2 separate regions of the Homo sapiens genome follow, and region 2 is linked to region 1. The links come from fine-mapping of genetic effects on gene expression. A gene starts in region 1. The other region holds a variant in brackets. All regions are shown on one strand. Distances are between the middles of the regions. Region 1 holds the start of KMT5A (lysine methyltransferase 5A). Region 2 overlaps KMT5A (lysine methyltransferase 5A).

The links. PIP is the estimated chance that this variant, and not a neighbour inherited with it, causes the effect.
Region 2: its variant is fine-mapped to the expression of KMT5A in whole blood (INTERVAL, PIP 0.98).

Annotation. Positions count from the first base shown.
Region 1 is chr12:123,378,306-123,389,217 of GRCh38, reverse strand. KMT5A (lysine methyltransferase 5A) reads right to left here and starts at 5,086. Exons shown (of 8, transcript NM_020382.7): 1 at 5,010-5,086. The coding sequence starts at 5,019. RefSeq lists silencers at 85-444, 4,796-4,965, 5,893-6,115 and enhancers at 4,456-4,615, 5,456-5,675, 5,198-5,928.
Region 2 is chr12:123,403,203-123,414,114 of GRCh38, reverse strand. KMT5A (lysine methyltransferase 5A) reads right to left here. Exons shown (of 8, transcript NM_020382.7): 6 at 10,483-10,542; 7 at 9,041-9,231; 8 at 4,762-6,622. The coding sequence ends at 6,412. It also overlaps a transcript of RILPL2 not described here. Among named protein-coding and RNA genes, the nearest start is that of KMT5A, 25 kb to the right of the region's middle. The variant T/C (reference allele first, on the strand shown) is at 5,440.

The DNA of each region.
Region 1 (10,912 bases):
CCCGCCCCCCGCGCGGCCGGGCCCGACACACCCACCTGCAGCCCGGCCAGGCCCATGGCGGCGCGCCCCGCGCCCTCGCCGCCGCCACCAGCGCCGCCGCGGCGCCCCGGGGAAGGGCCGGCGGCGCCCCACGGCGCCCCCTTCCCCCATGGCCGGCGAGGCAGGGCCCGGCACCCGCGCACCGCGGCAGCCCCGGGCCGCCCGGGGCGAGGCACGAAGGGAAGGAGGCGCAGGCGGCGCGTCCTCCGCAGCCCTCCCGCCCGCTCGCAGCCGCCCACCGTCCGGCGCCCGGCCCGGGGAGGGGGCTGGTAGGGGCGGCGCCGCCAGGCCGCTCCGGAGGGCGGGCGGGCGGGCGCGGCGAATCCCGGCTCGGGCGCGCCCCCTCTCGCGCGGCCTCAGCCACTCGCGGAGGAAGGGGTGGGAAACACCGTCATGACAGCCCAGGCTCCCGCCCGCCCTCCCGCCAGCCCGCCCGGCTCCTTTTTCCGCTGGCTCTGCGGATATTTTGGGAACCCGGTCTGTGCCAGACGAAATCAGCAGCGGTGAACGCGCCAGGCCAGGCCCTCGGGTGTGCCCGGCGCTGTGCCCACCGAGAGTTTCACAGGCATTGAATCCTCCCCGCACGCCCACGGGGGCAGGTCCTGTCGGCATCCCAGCTTACAATGGTGACACTGTGACTCAAGGGATGTGCAGGGGTTTGTCCCGGGCCACAGAACTAGGAAGTGATGGGGCCAGGTGTCAAACCCAGAAGGGCTGTACTTGACCGGTAGGAAGCCCTGGGGAGACAGAGCCAGGGGTTATAATGATCGGTTTCCTGGGCGAGTCTCTTGCCGTTATCTCACTGAAACCTCACAGCAGCCCTGCAAAGGTAGACACCATTATTATCTCTTTTCAACAGATGGAGAAAGTGAGGAGCTTGGCCAAGTTCTCAGAACTAGATGGGTTTTCAGCCCCAGCCAACTGACCCCAGGGCCTTGCCCTCCCAGCCACTACCCTTCCTGGTTACAGATGAGGAAATGGAGTTTGGGAGAAGCAAATGGTCTTGCAGAAGGGTTTAACATGTCACCTTGTTCTCCTATCCCGCCGTGAGAAAATGCCCCCATAGGCAGACGAGGTTCCCGTCACTCTGGTGGCTGTTTCAGCATAGCTCACTGCCCTGCACCACTACTCTGTGGCCATTAAGGCTTGAGGGCCCACAGCCAGATTCACTGTATTTGTGCAAAGTCATAGATGCAAACAAGACACTTCAAGGCATCCAGCTCCTGCAGCCTGGCCCATGGCCTGGGAGTCAGGGGCTGGACTTATTTCCCTGCATCTGCCCAGAGGTGTTTTGTGACCATCGCCAAGTCACTTCCCCAGTCTGGGCCTCAGTGTCCTCATGGGTAAAAACCAAGAACCTTGAATTCCATAATCCACCAGAGCACCTTCCAACATCCACAGATAAGCAAATGGCTGTTTGTAGCCATCCTCCCACCTAGCCTCCCTCGACTCCCATTGGAACGGATAAGACTGAGTAGGATTAGGTGGTGACAGGTCACTGCTCAGACAATCCCTCCCAAATCAGCTCATGCTTTAGCATCCTTCAAGGCAGGGTCTCCAGCCCAACCACTAACTCCAGTGGGCTAGGTACTCTGCCTATGCCCTCTGCAGAGCCTACTACAGTTGAATATCCAAAAGATTACCCAGAGGGTGAAAGAGGATTCGAAAGTGACACTCTGATAACCAGGTTGAGCCATTTGAAAGCGTCTTCTATTTCTGCAAGGCAGAGAAGTTTTGCAGCTTAACTGCCATGAGAATCATGGTTTTGGAGCAGGAAGCACCCACATAGATCATCTTATCCATTTCACATTCTAGTATACCGAGCCACACCCCACGCCCCACTCATGGTCATAGCTTTCTCTGCATTTGAGCCCCCAATTGCAGGGGACACATTACAAGTCTAGCACCTATTCCTCTCAATTCTGCAGCTCCAGTACCTAGAAGATGTAAATACAGATCATTCAATGTAAGTTTCAAAACAGTCCTTTCTCCGCAAGTTTATACGTATATAACAAATACACCAGCTGGGCGCAGTGGCTCACACCTGTAATCCCAGCACCTTGGGAGGCAGAGGAGGGCAAATCACCTGAAATCAGGAGTTTGAGACCAGCCTGGCCAACATGGCGAAACCCCGTCTCTACTAAAAATACAAAAATTAGCTTGGCGTGGTTGCGCATGCCTGTAATCCCAGCTACTTGGGAGGCTGAGGCAGGAGAGTCACTTGAACCCAGGGGGGTGGAGTTTGCAGTGAGCCAAGATTGTGCCACTGCACTCTATCCTGGGTGACAGAGTGAGACTCTGTCTCCCAAAAAAAAAGAAAAGTCTGTATTTTTGGAGACCCCCCCACCAGGTGCTAAGGGATAATGAACTGAAGATGGCAAAATGAGGAGGGCAACCAACCAAGAGACCATTCAACAATGGCAGTAGAAATAGTGAAAGGTAGGTGGACTGACCCCTGAGACTAATATATTGGGGTTGTAAATATTTGCATGATTATAAAACTTCAAAATGAGTGAGGTGTTGCCTGGCATCTGACCAGTTTGTTTCTGTGACCCAGCAGGGCTCTCAAAGTGAATTGCAAGTTCAAAGCCCAATTTTCTAGAAGAAAAAGACTGTTCATTTGAAGTGCTGTAAATGATTTGGTATTTACAATTCTAAATATTGGCCAGGCGTGGTGGCTTTTGCCTGTAATCCCAGCACTCTGGGAGGCCGAGGTGGGCAGATAACCTGAGGTCAGGAGTTCAAGACTAGCCTGGCCAACATGGCGAAACCCCGTCTCTACTAAAAATACAAAAATTAGCTGGGTGTGGTGACAGGTGCCTGTAATCCCAGCTACTTGGGAAGCTGAGGCACAAGAATCACTTGAACACAGGAGAGGGAGGGTGAAGCGGGCTGAAATCACTCCACTGTACTCCAGCCTGGGTGACAGAGAGAGACTCTGTCTCAAAAAAAAAAAAAAAAAAAAAAATCTAAATCTAAATATCCAATTTAATAGCTTGCAAGGGCAGTAAAGCCTAAGAAACAGGTAACTACTAATTTGGGGGTCAAGTGAGACAGTGAGAATCAATAACTAATAATTACATAGGTGATTTGTAAGCTGCCATGGGAGGAGCTGACAAACATTATCTTCGCTTTGGGTAAGTAAGGGAGGTTGGGTGGCACAAGCAAAGACCCAGCCAAGCTAGAGTCTGGACAGCAAGTTTGGACTTCACGCTTCCTCTTCCAAAAAATGAGAATAACAATTTGTAAAGATCAATTGAGTTAATAAAGTGCCTGGCCCTCAGTGGTAATTATTATTATTTTGTTATTGTTCTTGTTTGTTTTTTTGAGATGGAGTCTTGCTCTGTTGCCCATGCTGGAGTGCGGTGACGTAATCTCGGCTCACTGCAAGCTCCACCTCCCAGGTTCAGGCAATTCTCCCTGCCTCAGCCTCCCAAGTAGCTGGGATTACAGGCATGCGCTGCCATGCCCGGCTAATTTTGTATTTTTAGTAGAGACGGGATTTCTCCATGTTGGTCAGACTGGTCTCGAACTCCCGACCTCAGGTGATCTGCCCGCCTTGGCCTCCCAAAGTGCTAGGATTACAGGTGTGAGCCACCATGCCTGGCCATAATTATTATTTAGTCATATTTTAAGTATTTCAATGATAGATGGTTAGTTTTCTTCATATATTAATTAATGCACTACTTTTAAAACAAGTAGTTTAAATGATTTTGCTGTGATGAGAAAAATGAACCCAGGAAGCATAGTTTTATTAAAATTTGTCAGATAAATTAGTCAGATAATGTTAAATATACTTTTAGATGCTTAACACTTTTCAAAGGAAAAATATTAGTATTAATTTTCTCCAAGAGTTGAGTGATGAAGCTCTTTAACCTGAAGTTTACTATGCCTCATTTTTTCATCAGGCTCTGGGTAAGTCTTATCCCAAAAGAACCTCTAGGGATGCTAGGAGAATAGATGATGCAACTGACTTCAGGGCCTGAAAACAAAGGGACCCAATAGATATTTACTGAATGAATCATTATTTTATTCATTATTATTGCTATAGGGAGCATACTGCACTAAAGCAAATTCCTACTAACACTTGAAGCCTTGAAATTTTGAGAAAAATATAATACCAAAACTTTTTTTTTTTTTTAATACTAATTCTACTCAACTTTCACGCTCAAGTTTTTGGCCCTTTGGCGTGAAGGAGACGCAGTGGCTGGAAATGACCAAGCGGTTGGAGATCTCTTTGCCGCATACCTGGGAGGCACTGTCCTGACAGCCAACTAAGTATGCAGAGGACTTCAGACAGGGCATCGCCTCCCAGGGCTGTACAAGCCCACCCAAGCCATCTACCGGGGGGCGAAGTCCTGACCAGATGCGGGGCGAACGACCGCGCCCGCGAGATGCCAGGAACCCGTTTTACCCCAAAGTGGGCCAGCGGGGCCCGGCCTTCGCTCCAGCGGCGCAGAGCTGACTCAGGACGTGGGGAGGGAGGAAAGGCGCCTGCTGCGGTGTCCACCCTGACGCGCACCCCAATATGCAGGTTATCGATCTGCGCCTTCGCCTCGGGATCACCTCCTTTCCCAAAGAGAGAGGGCCCCAAAGTGGGCGAAGCCTCACTCCTGCCCCCGCCCCACTTCTATCAATAACACCTATTCCCTGGAGGTGCCCTGCGCTTTAGTTTCCAAAGAGCTCTGACATATGGATCTGCTGCCGTGGAGAGGCAGGCCCGCAGGTGTTCACTTCATAGAAGGGAAACAGAAGCACGGCAGTGGGAAGGGTTTCTGGGGGCATCTGGAGCCGCAAGGGGGGGCCGGCGGGTTCCGCAGCAGCACCCCCTCTCCCCCCACGCGGGTCCCCAAGCTTGCCCCGAGCCACCCGAGGAGGACGCCTCCCCGCAGCCGCTGCCTCCACCCCGGCAACCCCTCCAGCACGACCCCCGACCCAGCCGCTCCGGTGCCGGCCACTTGGGCAAATACCTCTAGCCATGGCTCCACTCTGTCACCGCCTGGGATCTCCCGGGAAACCCAGCTTTCGAAAAAAGTTGCAACAACTCAGCCAACTGCTCCGCCGGGCTCCAGCTGCTCGCCCCGATTGGCGCCGCCTCCCGCCTCTCCGCAGGCTGCCCGTAGTGATAGGCCAACTCGGAGAAAGGCCCCGCCCTTCTCCCGCCTCTTCGGCGGCGGGGCGTGTCCAGCCGCCGCAATAACTGCAAACGCTTTCCCGACAGGTCCCGGCGGAGGAGGTGGGAGGGGTGTTTAAATTTGACCGTCGCCAGACGTTGAATGGCTGCGATGGAAGACACCCGAGCTGCCATTGGGAGGCCCCAGATTCCTCCCCCTCCCGCTGCTGAAGCTCCGCCTCCGGAGCGTGAGTAGCCCGGCTGGAGCCCTGGGCTCCGAGCCGACCGGATCTGGGACTTCCGGTTCTCTGTGGGCTTGACCGGAACCCGACCTTTGACCCCTCGATCTTCCCTTAAGAGCTGGGAAACCTGAGTCTCCCAGCAGTTTAGCAACTCCAGCACACCGACCTCTCCAGCAGTTTGATCCATTCATTCTCAGGTTTGAAAGGTTTTGGCCGGGCGCGGTGGCTCATGCCTGTAATCCCAGCACTTTGGGAGGCTGAGGCGGGCGGATCACCTGAGGTCCGTGGTTCGAGACCAGCCTGACCAATATAGAGAAACCCAGTCTCTACTAAAAATACAAAATTAGCCGGGCGTGGTATCGCATGCATGTAATCCCAGCTACTCGGGAGGCTGAGGCCGGAGAATAGCATGTAATCCCAGCTACTCGGGAGGCAGAGGTTACGGTGAGCCGAGATCGCGCCATTGCACTCCAGCCTGGGCAACAAGAGCGAAACACTGTCTCAAAAAAAAAAAAAAAAAAAAAGGTTTATTGAATATTCCAGTATTCAAAACCCGGCCGGGCGCGGTGGCTCACGCCTGTAATCTCAGCACTTTGGGAGGCCGAGGCGGGTGGATTACGAGGTCAGGAGATCGAGACCATCCTGGCTAACACGGTGAAACCCCGTCTCTACTAAAAATACAAAAAAAATGAGCCGGGCGTGGTGGCGGGCGCCTGTAGTCCCAGCTACCTGGGAGGCCGAGGCAGGACAATGGCGTGAACCCGGGAGACAGAGCTTGCAGTGAGCCGAGATCACGCCGCTGCACTCCAGCCTGGGCGACAGAACGAGACTCCGTCTCAAAAAAAGAAAAAAAAAAAAACCCACAGACACAACTCCTACCAACTAACTGGGTCAGTAGGGAAGGTCCTTCCAGGACCGCAAAGATCCTAATGCTTCACACCCACCCATTTTACAGATGGGGCAATAGAGGAAGCGGGTCACTTACGCGCTGCCCAAGGTCACCCAGCAATGTAATTGCAGGGCCTGGGTCAGTCTCTCCACTGTTCAAACACTAAATGGCTACCTTATCCCGAGGGAAGCAAGTATTCGCTGTTCCCCTCTGAGAGAGGGGGCTCAGTCAGTATGTTCCCAGAGAATCAGGTGTCCTGGAGTGTCTGCTTTGGACTCAGGGAAGGCGTCCAGTTACTACTGCTCTTCCCTGGGGCCCCTCCCAGGGGTGTGGGACGAGGTCACTAATCCATCCTGTCTCTTTGGTAATTGAAAAGGTTTTGGAGACCCAACCATTGCCCAAAGACTCTTCCAAAGCACCAGGAAAATAGGAAAGGAAAATAAAATGATATATGTGAAAGCACTGGGAAAGGTAGAAAAGGACACTTTTGTCACAAAGTCACTGTGTCACTTGGCACATCAGTTCAGCTCTCTGGCCTTCCATTTCCCTACCTGTCAAATGAAGGAGCTGGTGCCGTAATCTCCAACATGCCTTACAGCTTCCATAAATATGTGGAAGTGTGGCAGTGTGCAGTGGCTCTCACCTGTAATCCCAGCACTCTGGGAGGCCGAGGCAGGTGGATCACGAGGTCAGGAATTCAAGACCAGCCTGACCAACATGGTGAAAACCCCGTTTCTACTAAAAATACAAAAATTAGCCAGGCGTGGTGGTGCGTGCCTGTAATCTCACTACTCAGGAGGCTGAGGCGGAGAAGTGCTTGAACCCGGGAGGCAGAGGTTGCAGTGAGCCAAGATCGTCCCACTGCAATCCAGCCTGGGCACCAGAGCGAGACTCTGTCTCAAAACAAACAAACAAACAAACAAAAAATATATATAGAGAGAGAGGTGTTTGCTTTCTCCAAAATTGATTATTTCAACATTTATTGAGCTCTATGCCTGCCGCTGTTTTGGATCCCCCAAGGATCCGAAGGGAAAGTAGACACAGCTCCTTCCCTGCATTCTTTTAGGGAAGAAACAAGGCATTATTTAAAAGATAATTTTAAGGCTGGGTGTGGTGACTCACACCTGTAATCCCAGCACTTTGGGAGGCTGAGGTGGGCGGATCACCAGGTCAGAAGATCGAGACCATCCTGGCTAACACGGTGAAACCCCATCTCTACTAAAAATACAAAAAAAAAAAAATTAGCCGGGCGTGGTGGCAGGCACCTGGAGTCCCAGCTACTCGGGAGGCTGAGGCAGAGCTTGCAGTGAGCCGAGATCACGCCACTGCACTCCAGCCTAGGCGACAAAGAGAGACTCCATCTCAAAAAAAAAAAAAGAGAAAAAAGAAAAAAAAGATCATTTTGTTTATTTATTTTTATTTTTCTTGAGACGGAGTCTCTCTCTGTCTCCCTAGGCTGGAGTGCAGTGGTTTGATCTCGGCTCACTGCAACATCTGCCTCCTGGGCTCAAGCAATTCTCCTGCCTCAGCATTCTGAGTAGCTGGAATTATAGGCGCCCACTACCATGGCTGGCTAATTTTTGTATTTTTAGTAGAGATGGGGTTTCACCATGTTGGCCAGGCTGGATTCGAACTCCTAACCTCAATTGATATGACGGCCTCAGCCTCCCAAAGTGCTGGGATTACAGGCGTGACCCACTGCGCTCAGCCCAATTTTTGTATTTTTAATAGAGATAGTGTTTCTCCATGTTGGCCAGTCTGGTCTCAAACTCCTGGCATCATGTGATCCAGCTGCCTCAGCCTTCCAAAGTGCTAGGATTACAGGCATGAGCCCACCACCCCTAGCCTAAAAGATTATTTTTATTTTATTTATTTTTTAAGACAGGGTCGCATTCTGTCATCCAGGCTAGAGTGCAGGGGCACGTTCTCGACTCACTGCAACCTCCACCTCCTGGGCTCAAGCAATTCTCCTGCCTCAGCCTCCCAAGTAGTTGGGATTACAAGAGTGTGCCATCATGCCCACCTATTTTTTTTTTTTTGAGACGGAGTCTCGCTCTGTCACCCAGGCTGGAGTGCAATGGCGTGATCTCGGCTCACTGCAACCTCTGCCTCCTAGGTTCAAGCAATTCTCCTGCCTCAGCCTCCCGAGTAGCTGGGATTATAGGCATGCGCCAAAACACCCAGCTATTTCTTTTTTGTATTTTTAGTAGAGACGGGGTTCCACCATGCTCCCCAGGCTAGTCTTGAACTCCTGGCCTCAAGTGATCCACCCGCCTCAGCCTCCCAAAGCGCTTGCCTTACAGGCGTGAGCCACCGCGCCCGGGCATATTTTTGTATTTTTGGTAGAGAAGGGGTTTCACCACGTTGGCCAGGCTGGTCTTGAATTCCTGACCTCAAATGATCTACCTGCCTTGGCCTCCCGAAGTGTTGGGACTACAGGCGTGAGCCACACGCCCATCCAAAAGATTATTTAATTTAATTAATTTATTTATTTTATTTATTTATTTTTTGAGACAGAGTTTCACTCTTGTTGCCCAGGCTGGAGTGCAATGGCACAATCTCGGCTCACCGCAACCTCCACCTCCCAGGTTCAAGCGATTCTCCTGCCTCAACCTCCCGAGTAGCTGGGATTACAGGCATGCGCCACGATACCCAGCTAATTTTGTATTTTTAGTAGAGACAAGGGTTTCTCCATGTTGGTCAGGCTGGTCTCAAACTCCTGACCTCAGGTGATGATCAGTCCACCTCGGCCTCCCAAAGTGCTGGGATTACAGGGGTGAGCCACCGCACCCGGCCTATTTATTTTTTGAGACAGAGTCTTGCTCTATCGCCCAAGCTGGAGTGAAGTGGCAGGATCTTGGCTCACCACAACCTCCGCCTCCCGGGTTCAAGCGATTCTCCTGCCTCAGCCTCCCAGATAGCTGGGATTACAGGCACCCGCCACCACACCCAGCTAATTTTTGTATTTTTAGTAGAGGTGGGGTTTTGCCATGTTGGCCAGGCTGGTCTCAAACTCCTGACCTCAAGTGATCTGCCCACCTTGGCCTTCCAAATTGCTAGGACTACAGGCATGAGCCACTGCTCCCAGCCCAAAAGATCATTATAAATAGTGATTAATGCTATAAGGAAAAAAGGCAGGCCAGGCCTGGTGGCTTATGCTTGTAATCCCAGCACTTTGGGAGTCCGTGGCAGGTGTATCGCTTGATCTCATAAGTTTGAGATCAGCCTGGGTAATATCCACATTTCTACCCTGTTCTGTGATACAGAGCAGCAAACCATAATTCCCCGTTCTCAGTTAATGTTAGGTTCTTCCAATGAGAGCAGATAGAAGCAGTCTGGGAGGCAGGAGGAAGAGAGGGGACTTGTTCTTGCCTGTTTGCTTACTATTCCTAGCATGTTCCCCTCAGTAATAACACTGCCTCTGGCAGTAGTATTTGGTTCAGTCTCCAGGTTCTTTGTACACTCCCAGAGACAGCCTCCTTGTGCTCCCGCGGAGGCACCAACAGCAGACCCCTCCTCAGAGTTTTGAGTCCCAACTACACAGGGCTCTGGGAGGCCCAGCACCAATCTGGTTGTGCCTCTTTCTTTTTTTCTTTCTGTCTTTTTTTTTGAGACAGAGTCTCGCTCTGTCACCCCAGTGGCACAATCTCAGCTCACTGCAACCTCTGCCTTCTGGGTTCAAACGATTCTCCTGCCTCAGCCTCCCACATAGCTGGAATTGCCGGCATGCACCACCACATCAGGCTAATTTTTTGTATTTTTAGTAGAGACAGGGTTTTGCCATGTTGGCCAGGCTGGTCTCGAACTCCTGACCTCAAGTGATCCGCCCACCTCTGCCTCTGAAAGTGCTGGGATTACAGGCATGAATCACAGCGCCTGGCTATGTGCCTCTTTCTTAGAGGGGTGAGAACGAGCTCTCCGGGGCTCTTCCTCCGATTTTGCTAGCTGTGCTAACCCCAACTTGTTTTTATTTTTATCTCCAGCTTTGGAGGTGGTAGCTGCTTCCTCTAGTTGTTATTTACATTGCCTCGGTGTTCCCTTTCTGCCTTCTCAGTCCTCTGTCACCCGTTTAATGAATTTCCTATTTTAACCTCTCTGTTTTCCTAACTGGATGCTGACTTACAGAAGGGCACTAGTAAGACTTATATTTTTACTCCAGTCCAATGGAAAGCCACTAAATGGTTTTAAGCAAAGGGTAGATTCATAGATTGTAAATCTGAATACTAATTTATTGCAAAGAGTACATAAATTATAATTATCGACACTGGGCGTGGTGGCTCATGCCTGTAACCCCAGCACTTTGGGAGGCCCAGGCAGGAATATGACTTGAGGTTGGGAGTTCGAGACCAGCCTGGCCAACATGGCGAAACCCAGTCTCTACGAAAAATACAAAAAAACTACAGGTGGCACACACCTGTAATCCCAGCTACTTGGGATGCTGAGGCAGGAAAATCGCTTGAACCTGGGAGGCAGAGGTTGCAGTGAGCCAAGATTACACCACTGCACCCCAGCCTGAGCGACAAAGTGAGAATAAAAAAAAAATATATGGCCAGGCACGGTGGCTGACGCCTATAATCCTAGCACTTTGGGAGACAGAGGCAGGTGGATCACCTGAGGTCAGGAGTTCGA
Region 2 (10,912 bases), 25 kb before region 1:
GCAGGCACAGGGCACGGGACTGGCAGGCAGCTCCATCTGCAGCCCCGGTGCGGGATCCACTGGGTGAAGCCAGCTGGGCTCCTGAGTCTGCTGGGGACGTGGAGAACCTTTGTGTCTAGCTCAGGGATTGTAAATACACCAATCGGCACTCTGTATCTAGCTCAAGGTTTGTGAACACACCAATCAGCACCCTGTGTCTAGCTCAGGGTTTGTGAATGCACCAATCGACATTCTGTATCTAGCTACTCTGGTGGGGCCTTGGAGAACCTTTGTGTCCACACTCTGTATCTAGCTAATCTGGTGGGGACGTGGAGAACCTTTGTGTCTAGATCAGGGATTGTAAACGCACCAATCAGCGCCCTGTCAAAACAGACCACTTGGCTCTACCAATCAGCAGGATGTGGGTGGGGCCAGATAAGAGAATAAAAGCAGGCTGCCCCAGGCAGCAGTGGCAACCCGCTCGGGTTCCTTTCCGCATTGTGGAAGCTTTGTTCTTTTGTTCTTTGCAATAAATCTTACTACTGCTTACTCTTTGGGTCCACACTGCTTTTATGAGCTGTAATACTCACCCCGAAGGTCTGCAGCTTCACTCCTGAAGCTAGGGAGACCAGGAGCCCACCAGGAGGAACGAGCAACTCCAGACGCGCCGCCTTAAGAGCTGTAACACTCACCACGAAGGTCTGCAGCTTCACTCCTGAGCCAGCGAGATCACGAACCCACCAGAAGGAAGAAACTCCGAACACATCTGAACATCAGAAGGAACAAACTCTGGACACGCCACCTTTAAGAACTGTAACACTCACCGCGAGGGTCCGCGGCTTCATTCTTGAAGTCAGTGAGACCAAGAACCCACCAATTCCGGACACACTGGGATTACAGGCGTGAGCCACCGCACCCGGCTTTTTTTTGGGGGGTGGTGGGGACGGAGTCTTGCTCTATCGCCCAGGCTGGAGTGCAGTGGCACCATCTGGGTTCACTGCAATCTCTGCCTCCCAGATTCAAGCGATGCTCCTGCCTCAGCCTCCCGACTAGCTGGGACTATAGGTATATGCCACCACACTGGGTTAATTTTTGTATTTTTGTAGAGACGGGGTTTCACCATATTGGCCAGGCTGGTCTCGAACTCCTGACCTCATGATCCGCCCTCCTCGGCCTCCCAAAGTGCTGGGATTACAGGCGTGAGTCACCGTGCCCGGCCAGTTTATAGGTTTAGAAACTGAAACTCTGGCTGTGGAGCTAGGAAGCAGCTTGCCCAGGAGGCAAATGCAGGCCTGATTCCAAGGCCCGGGCGCGGAGCTGCCAAGCTTTATGGGTCCAGAGTCACTGGCAAGTCCTAATAATAGTAATAATTTACTGTATGCCTCGCCTGCATCATTCTAAGTACCTTTCCGATGCTGTCTCACATACTTTTGTGGGATGGGTATCACTATTGTCCTTGGGGTCCTCCCAAGGAGGTTAAGGCATAATGGGTGAAAAGTCTTGTCTAAGGTCCTCAGCTAGAAAGTGGTAGAAGCAGGACTTGAGCCCAGATACAAAGTCCACACACAGGCTTCAACCACTCTGCCTTCCAGGAAGAGCTGGTAGTGTTTAAGAGTCTAGTCCAGAACACTGTCTCAACAGCATCATTAGATCAGGGCTCCTAATCCCTAGAACCCTGTGTAACACTGCAACCCTGGCCAGGCATAGTGGTTCAAGCCTGTAATTCCAGCACTTTTGGAGGCCAAGGTGAGAGGATTGCTTGAGCCCAGGAGTTCGAGACCAGCCTAGGCAACATAGTAAGAACCTATCTTTACAAAAAACAAAAAATTAGCCAGGCATGGTGGTGAGCACCTGTAGTCCCAGCTCCTGGGGAGGCTGAGGCGGGAAGATTAATTGAGCCCGGGAGTTTGAGGCTGCAGTGAGCTATGATCACACCACTACACTCCAGCCTGGGTGACAGAGTGAGACCCTGTCTCCAAATATATAAATGCTCCCCTGCCTCCCTGTGGGGATAGATAGGGTAAGAGAACCCACTCAGAAAGAAAGGTTAAGATGGCCTGGGTGGCTGTGGTACCCCAGGAGACTAAAAAAAGTTACGGTGAGAAATGCTTGGACTGCAACTCTTGGTAAAATCTGATGCTGGCAGGTGGGCATTTTGGAAAATAAGTCCTTGGGGTGATTCTCCTAGAGATGGGCCTAGCTTGACAACAGGTAACAGAGCTGTGACGTCAGCTGAGCTCTGGCGGTTCTCACACTGCAGGATTCCAACTACAAACCTAGACCGGGGAGGAACAGGCTCAGAAGTAGGTTTTCGCCGGGTGCAGTGGCTCATGCTTGTAATCCTAGCACTTTGGGAGGCCGAGGTGGGTGGATCACAAGGTCAGGAGTTCGAGACCAGCCTGGCCAAGAAGGTGAAACCCTGTCTCTACTAAAAATACAAAAATTAGCTATTCAGGAGGCCAAGGCAGGGGAATTGCTTGAACCTGGATGGCAGAGGTTGCAGTGAGCTGAGTTCATGCCACTGCACTCCAGCCTGGGCGACAGAATGAGACTCCGTCTCAAAAAAAAAAAAAAAAAAAAAAAGGTTTTCAAGCCAAGTCTCAGAAGGCACAGGAGGTGGTTGCTGTAGCAATCATCTTTTATTTTATTTATTTGAGACAGAGTCTCGCTCTGTCGCCCAGGCCGGAGTGCAGTGGCAGGATCTCAGCTCCTGACCTCATAATCCGCCTGCCTCGCCCTCCCAAAGTGGTGGGATTACAGGGATTACCGTGCCTGGCCAGCAGTCATCTTTTACAATGAACAAATAGGGCTGGGCGCGGTGGCTCACATCTGTAATCCTAGCACTTTGGGAGATGGGCAGATCACGAGGTCAGGAGACCAGCCTGGCCAACATGGTGAAACCTCGTCTCTACTAAAAATACAAAAATTAGCTGGGTGTGGTGATGCACGCCTGTAATCCTAGCTACTCAGGAGGTTGAGGCAGGAGAATCGCTTGAACCCGGGAGGTGGAGGTTTCAGTGAGCTGAGATTGCACCACTGCACTCCAGCCTGGGCGACAGACAGACCAAGACTCCATCTCAAAAAAAAAATAAATAAATAAATAAAAATAAGTCAGGCACAGTGGCTCACGCATGCCTGTAATCACAGCCCTGTGGGAGGGTGAGGCATGAGGATCGCTTGAGGCCAGGGGTTTGAGACTAGCTTGGGCAACATAGTGAGACCCTATCTCTACAAAAAGTAAAATGAACAAATAAATATAGCAACTACATATCAGAACTTGGAGGCACTTATTAGCTATTAGTCCTGAGTACTTGTAAACACTGAATAGAAGCTAGCCAAATTTTTAATTCTAATAATAGCTAATACTGATTACTGAAGGCTATGTGCAAGGCACTGTTCCAAGTGTTGTTTTTTTTTTTTTTGTATTAACTCATTAAATCCTCACAATCACCCTGTACAAGTATTATTACTGTCTCCATGTTACAGGGAGGGAAACTGACGCACAAGGAGACTACGTACCTGCCCAAGTTACACAGCAGTGGATTGGAAGCAGAGGTTCTGTTCCAGCAGCCACATGTCCCCTCCAAGGTGAAGCTATAATACTGATGCCTGAATCTTTGGGGGAGGAGGCAAGTCAAGTGGGCAGAGATTATCCCTATTTGAGACAAGTTTCAGAGAGGGGAAGTGACTTGACCAATGTCACACGGCTGACAAACACTTAAAACTGATGCTGGAACTGGATCTTTTGCATCTAAGCCAAGGGCTCTACTCACTGTTCCAATCTACCACCAGTGCCCAAGCATGGAGGGGACAGGGATCTGGGCTGGTAATAGGGACTTCCAGCCCAAGACAGGTGCAGTGATGATTCAGAGCCTCCTGAGAATCATCAAGTCTAGTAAATTATAAGTCGCAATGACAATTACATCAGCTAAAGTTTATGATGCTTACTATGTGCCATTGTTCTAAGGCTCAAAATGCATTAACTTTTAAGCTGGGCGTGGTGGCTCATGCCTATAATCCCAGCATTTTGGGAGGCCGAGGCGGGTGGATCATTAAGGTCAGGAGTTTGAGACCAGCCTGGCCAACACGGTGAAACCCTGTCTCTACTGTGGCCGGGTGCAGTGGCTCACGCCTGTAATCCTAGCAGTTTGGGAGGCCAAGGCGGGCAGATCACTTGAGGTCAGGAGTTCGAAACCAGCCTGGTCAACATGGTGAAAGACCGTCTCTACTAAAAATACAAAAAAATTAGCTGGGTGTGGTGGCTGGCGCCTGTAATCCCAGCTACTTGGGAGGCTGAGGCAGAATTGCTTGAACCTGGGAGGTAGAGGTTGCAGTGAGCCCAGATCATGCCACTGCACTCCCACCTGGGCAACAGAGTGAAATTCCATCTCAAAAAAAAAAAAAAAAAAAAAAAAAAAAAAGGCCAGGTGTGGTGGTGCATGCCTGTAATCCCAGCTATTCAGGTAGCCAAGGTACGAGAATTGCTTGAACCAAGGAGGTGGAGGTTGGAGGTTGCAGTGAGCTGAGACTGCCCCACTGAACTCCAGCCTAGGTAACAGAGACTGTCTCAAAAAAAAAAAAAAAAGCATTAACTTTTAATCTTCACATACCCTATGGTCCCCAGTATACAGATGAGGAAACGAAAGAGCTCAGAGTTCTGGGAAACACGCTCAAAATCACGTCAGTAAGCTTTTCTGGTTCCCCAGGAGGATGCTTACCAAAGCTTAGACATGCTGGTGTGACACAGTCAAATTGTAAAAACAGAAAGACACACACGTGGCCTTGCCTGGCAATAAATATTTTAATTTGTTTCATTTTTATGATGACAAATAATTTTCAAGTTTATTTCCTTGTTTAAATACAAAGCTAAACCACAAACAGGTATAATCAAGACATTGTGTCTCACATTTACACTCCCATCGGATCCTCTTCCAATTTGCTGACCACTGACCAGGCTAGCGGGGGGTGGGAGGGAAGACTTTCTTAGGTAGCACCGTCGTGAGGCCCGAGGTGGGGTTGGGGGGGAATCAAAGACGAGGACAGCCTCTCATACCTGTCTCCATTCACATTTACCTGGGACCAGGGTGGGCAGGAGACACCAGGTCATGGCTCCTGAGCCCCGGCCCCCTGGACTGAAGGGACAGTGTGTGAGAATCAGTTCTGTGAAGGGCGGGAGGAAGCAGTCACCTATTCCTCCTGCCTTCACAGTTAAGGTGAAAACCTTAGCCCTATCCTTGATTCCTGGGGGCTGCCGGGCCCTGTGTGCTCCCCTGCACACCTGGGTGCCTTTCTGAGGCTGGCAGCAGCGGCCGGGGTCAGGGGTCCTGGGCTCCTAGGCTCACACCTCAGCTCACAGTTGCGTCCTTGCAGGAGGACACTGGGTGTCTGACAAACACAAGGCCTCGACAGCAGGTCTGGAACTTTCAACCCCAGCAGGATGAGGGGGAATGGGGGTGGATG[T/C]CAGGTAAGTAATTTCTGGTCCCACTACAAAACTTTATTTTTGATTAGAGTACCATTCTCAATCTCTTCTACAAAAAGCAAAAAAAAGCAAAAAAAAAAAAAAAAAAAAGCAGCCACTTCACTCACTTCAAGACCTATATACATGTAAAGTTGTTTTCTGTGGTTTTTTTTATTTTTAATTTTTTTAAATTTTTATTATTATTTTTTAAAATAAATTCAGTGTTCACATTTCTATAAAGAATTAACCCAGTTTCAGGAAACCCTGCCCCAGCAGGGCAGGTAAGCAACCCTCTCCCTGCCCACATCTAGTTTGATTTCACGCCCTGATGCTTCAAGGTGCCCAGAAAAGCGGCAGCTTGTGGAAGAGGAAATCTATGCCCGGCCCGTGCTTGGGGCCCGGGGCTCAGTAAGCTTTCGAGAAAGCAGAGGGGAAGACTAGCTTACTGCAAAAACCTTTTTAAAAAATATTCATACACTTCAGTGAGCGCCTGTTGAGACGTTAGGGGAACAAGAGCTTGGAAACATCCCGTCCAGGCCATTGGGAGGCAGCGTCTTCCTCACACCCCGTCCCTGGATGTCGGGGGTGCAGGGGGAAGGTCCCGGCTCTTCCACTGGAGAAAGGAGACTCACCTGGCTTCCTAGTTCATGTTTGACTATTTCCTCTAAAACCTGTGCTGAGTCTTTGACTGCATGCACGGGAAGCACAAACGTTCGGCTTGTATGCAAAAAAAGTACAAAAACAACTAGAATATAAAAGTTTTGGTAATATAAGGCCATCTGTTCAAGTCCACCTTGGAAACCTGTAACAGATATTTAAATACTACAGTGAAAAGGCATCTTAATATACTTTTTAAAAACATCTGAAGTAATCCGCTAAGATTAAGTGTGTAAAAAAAAAATTCAATTCCCTTTGAGGGCACTTTGTCCTTTGAAGAAGGGAAAGTGGGGCGGGGAGGGCACGGGGCCCACCGGTTAATGCTTCAGCCACGGGTGGGCTTCAATGGAAGCCTTGCTGCGGTCCCCATAGTCATACAGGAGCTCCTCCCCAGCCGCGATGTCTCGGGAGGCGATGAGGATGAGGTGAGGTACGCCGTCGATGTCGTGCAGTTTGGTTTGGCAGTTCCCACATTTGCTGTGATTGATCAGTCTTCCTAGGCGATTTGTCTCTCTAGTTGCATCCACGCTGGAGGGGAAGGAGGGCCAGAGAGGATTAAATGGATAAAGAGGCTTTTCAACCTGAAGAGAGTCACACTTGTGCTCAGCTCTGGTGGGATGCTGATTTAAAGCCATGTGTTTTGAAAAGATTCAATTCATAAAGCTATTTTCTTTTTCCTTTTTAGAGGGGGTCTCGCTCCGTAACCCAGGCTGGAGTGCAGTGGCACGATCACGGCTCACTGCAGCCTCCACCTCCCGGGCTCAAGTCATCCTCCTACCTCAGCCTCCCGAGTAGCTTTGACCACAGGTACATGCCACCACATCAGGCTAATTTTTAATTGTTTCTGTAGAGACAAGATCTCCCTATATTGCTCAGGCTGGTCTCCAACCCCTGGGCTCAAGTGATCCTCTGGCCTTGGCCTCCTGAGTTTTTGAGATTACAAGCACGAGCCACCAGGTCTGGCTCAATTTGCAAAGCTTTTTTTTTTTTTTTTTTTTTTTTGAGAGGGAGTCTCGTCGCTCTGTCGCCCAGGCTGGAGTGCAGTGGCACGATCTCAGCTCACTGCAACCTCTGCCTCCCGGGGTAAGGCAATTCTGCCTCAGCCTCCTGAGTCACTGGGATTAGAAGCGTGTGCCACCATGCCAGGCTAATTTTTTTGTATTTTTAGTAGAGATGGGGTTTTGCCATGTTGGTCTGGAGCTCCTGACCTTCATGATCCATCCACCTCGGCCACCCAAAGTGCTGGGATCACAGGCATGAGCTACCACGCCTGGCCCACAAAGCTATTTTTGAGAGCCTGCACAGGCCCTGGGTGGGGGGATGGGGTAGGACCCAAAGGGCTCTTTATGGAGGCACAGGAGGAAATGGTAGAGTTTCACAAAATAAATGGATTAAAAAAATCAACCCCGCCAGGCGCGGTGGCTCACGCCTGTAATCCCAGCACTTTCGGAGGCTGAGGCGGGTGGATTACCTGAGGTCAGGATTTCAAAACCAGCCTGGCCACCATGGTGAAACGCTGTCTGTGCTAAAAATACAAAATTAGCTGGGCGTGGTGGCGCATGCCTGTAATCCCAGTTACTTGGGAGGCTGAGGCAGGAGAATTGCTTAAACTTCGGAAGTGGAAGTTGCAGTGAGCCAAGATCGTGCCACTGCACTCCTGCCTGGACAACAAGAGTGAAACTCCATCTCAAAAAAATAAAATAAAATAAAAAATAAAAAATTCAACTCCACTGGTCCTAGCCAGGCAAGATCAATTAGTGATTTCCAGAGCTGCTCTGGCCAAATGCCCTGAAGGAGAGCCAGGTGAGCTGCTTAACAGGTTTTCATGTGACTAGCCCACTTCTCCCCTTGGATGAGATAACATCCAGGACAGCTCCAATTCCAAAGATTAAAAATGGGAAGCTGGGGCCACAGTGGCTCATGCCTGTAATCCCAGCACTTTGGGAGGCCAAGGTGGGCAGGTCACAAGGTTAGGAGATTGAGACCATCCTGGCTAACACAGTGAAACTCCATCTCTACTAAAAATACAAAAAATTAGCCAGGCATGGTGGCATGTGTGTGTAGTCCCAGCTACTCAGGAGGCTGAGGCAGGAGAATCGCTTGAACCTGGGAGGTGGAGGTTGCAGTAAGCCAAGATTGCACCACTGCACTCCAGCCTGGGTGACAGAACGAGACTCCGTCTCAAAAGAAAAAAAAAAAGGGAAGCTGGGGCCAGGCGCAGTGGCTCACATCTGTAATCCCAGAACTTTGGGAGGCTAAGGCAGGCAGACCATATGAGGTCAGACCAGCCTGGCCAACATAATGAAACCCTGTCTCTACTAAAAAAATATATAAGAATTAGCTGGGCGTGGTGACGCACACCTGTAATCCCAGTTACGTGGGAGGCTGAGACAGAATACCTTGAACCCGGGAGGTGGAGGTTGCAGTGAGCCAAGATTGTGCCACTGCACTCCAGCTTGGGCGACAGATCGAGATTCAAAAAAAAAAAAAAAAAAAAAAAAAAGGAAGCAGGCGATAATTGCATCACAGCTTTGAAAAAAGGCAACAACAGCCCGAGCGCAGTGGCTCACACCTGTAATCCTAGCACTTTGGAAGGCCAAGGCGGGTGGATCGTCTGAGGTCAGGAGTTCAAGACCAGCTTGGCCAATGTGGCAAAACTCCACCTCTACTAAAAATACAGAAAAAAAAAATTAGCTGGGCTACTCTGGAGGCTGAGGGAGGAGAATTCTTTGAGCCTGAGAGGAGGTTGCAATGAGCCGAGATCACACCACTGCACTCCAGCCTGGGCAACAGAGCAAGACTCCATCTCAAAAAATAAAAAAAAAAAAGTCAACAACAACAAAACCAAAAGACTGGCCACCAAACAGAATCAGGAGTTCCTGGCCCTTTGGCCTCTCCTCACTGCCCAGAGGACAGAAAAGCCACTCTAAGCAACAGTGGACTCACCAGTAGGTTTTGCTCAGATACTGAAAATAGTACATGTAGCAGCCCGTGGAAGGGTCCTGTGCGTACAGAGCCTCCCGTTTCTTGGCGTCGGTGATCTCGATGAGGTCCCCGTGGTATTCCACCACAAAGTCACCCCGGGAGAACTGCTTGGTGGCAATCACACCCCTGCCTTTGCCATCGATGAGGTCAATCTGTCAGGTGATAAGAGAGGGTGTTGGTTCATAATAGCAATGGATGCCACTGTGCACAGCAGGTCTCCGGGGAGCTGGGGCTTACCCCAGTCTTTAACAGCTGTACTGAGCCATGTCATAAAATTCACTCACTTTACATGTACAGGCTGATGGGTTTTATGAAGTGTATACAGCTGTGCAACCGTCACTACAGGCCAGCTCTAGAACGTTCCCTCACTCCACAAACGTGGTTCCTTGGTGCTCATCTGCAAAGCAGTTACATCAGAGCTCGTGAGAGATCTGCTAGGTGGAGACTGCCCCATTTTGTAGATGAGGAAACTGAGGCTTAAAGAGGCACAACCACGTGTCTGAGGCCACACAGCTAGACAGTGACACAGCTCAAATCCACACACCTGGTTTCTCTGTCTAGGGGCTATGCGCTATGCCTTCCTAGGCAAACAGCAGGCCCAGTGTTCTGGGTCTCTACCTCATTCCACGATTTCTCTCCTGTGTCTCCTCACTCTATTCTACATGGAGTTGAATGGGGTTGCTGGAGGGGCCCAGGACTTAAGCCGGAATCCCCCTAGGTGGTGGGTGGAAGTGGAAGCTTTCTGAACCCGGAGCCCTAGTCTAGGCCCATCTGAACCCCACTGTAGAGAGTACTTCTCCTCTCGCCCAAACTGAGTGTGGTTGAAATACAGTAAGAGAAAAGCACATTTCTTGGGCATTGTCATTATCTAGGAAAACAGTTTAAAAATGTATTAGTTTCTCCTTTTAAAAGTTTCCCTGGGCATCAGCTACATATTGTATAATCCGATTTATATGAAGTGCCCAGAAGAGCAACTCCACTGAGACAGAAAGCAGCTGAGTGGCTGCCAGGGGCTGGGCAGGGGAGAGGTGGGGATGGTGGGCAGTGGTAAGTAATGGGTAAGGGTTTCCATTTGGGAGGATGAAAAAATTCTGAAATTAGACAGGGATAATGGTTGCATTGCATTGTGAATGTACAAAAAGCCACTGAATTGTTTAACCACAATTTCTAAGAAAAGCTTCCCCTGGATAACATTTATATACAAAGCCCATTTATGTTTCCTTCATAAGACATTTCCTTAACAACTTTTGGTATTTGGCTCTTTGACAACCTAATAGAGTCTGCCTGGTCACCATGGCCATTAGAGGGTGAAAGCCACATGGTGGCCACTCTCAGCCACGGGACCAGGGAAGGTGAGCTCTTCCAGCTTTAGCTATGATGCAGCAAGCACAGCAGCCCCTTACCTTCATTCCTTCTTCCTTCCCACTTTCAATCAATTCATCTATTCTTTTCCTTTCTTCAGACTGGGCAGAGAGAAAGAAAAACAGCATCAGTATCTTCTCCTAGGCCCATCGTGCGTAGCTTGATGGTCTTGAGCCCTGATTGCCCAGGCCATGCCCACCGGGCCACAATCGGCCTCATTTGGCATCACTGGGGATGATGGGTCCCCAGTGATGGCAAAGCCCCCAAGTATCCCTCCTTTTCTCATCACCCATCTGTTGTGGAAGATCTGTCACCTGGGGTTCAACTGGATCAGGAGGGAAACAGTGGGGACCCAAGAACAGAATGGGGCTCGTAGATATGTTCTGTTGCCCATGCAGCACGTTAAAAAATGTCCAACTTGCCCACACCTGAAAATCAGGCCTCTGACTTCACAGAAAATCAGGTACAGTG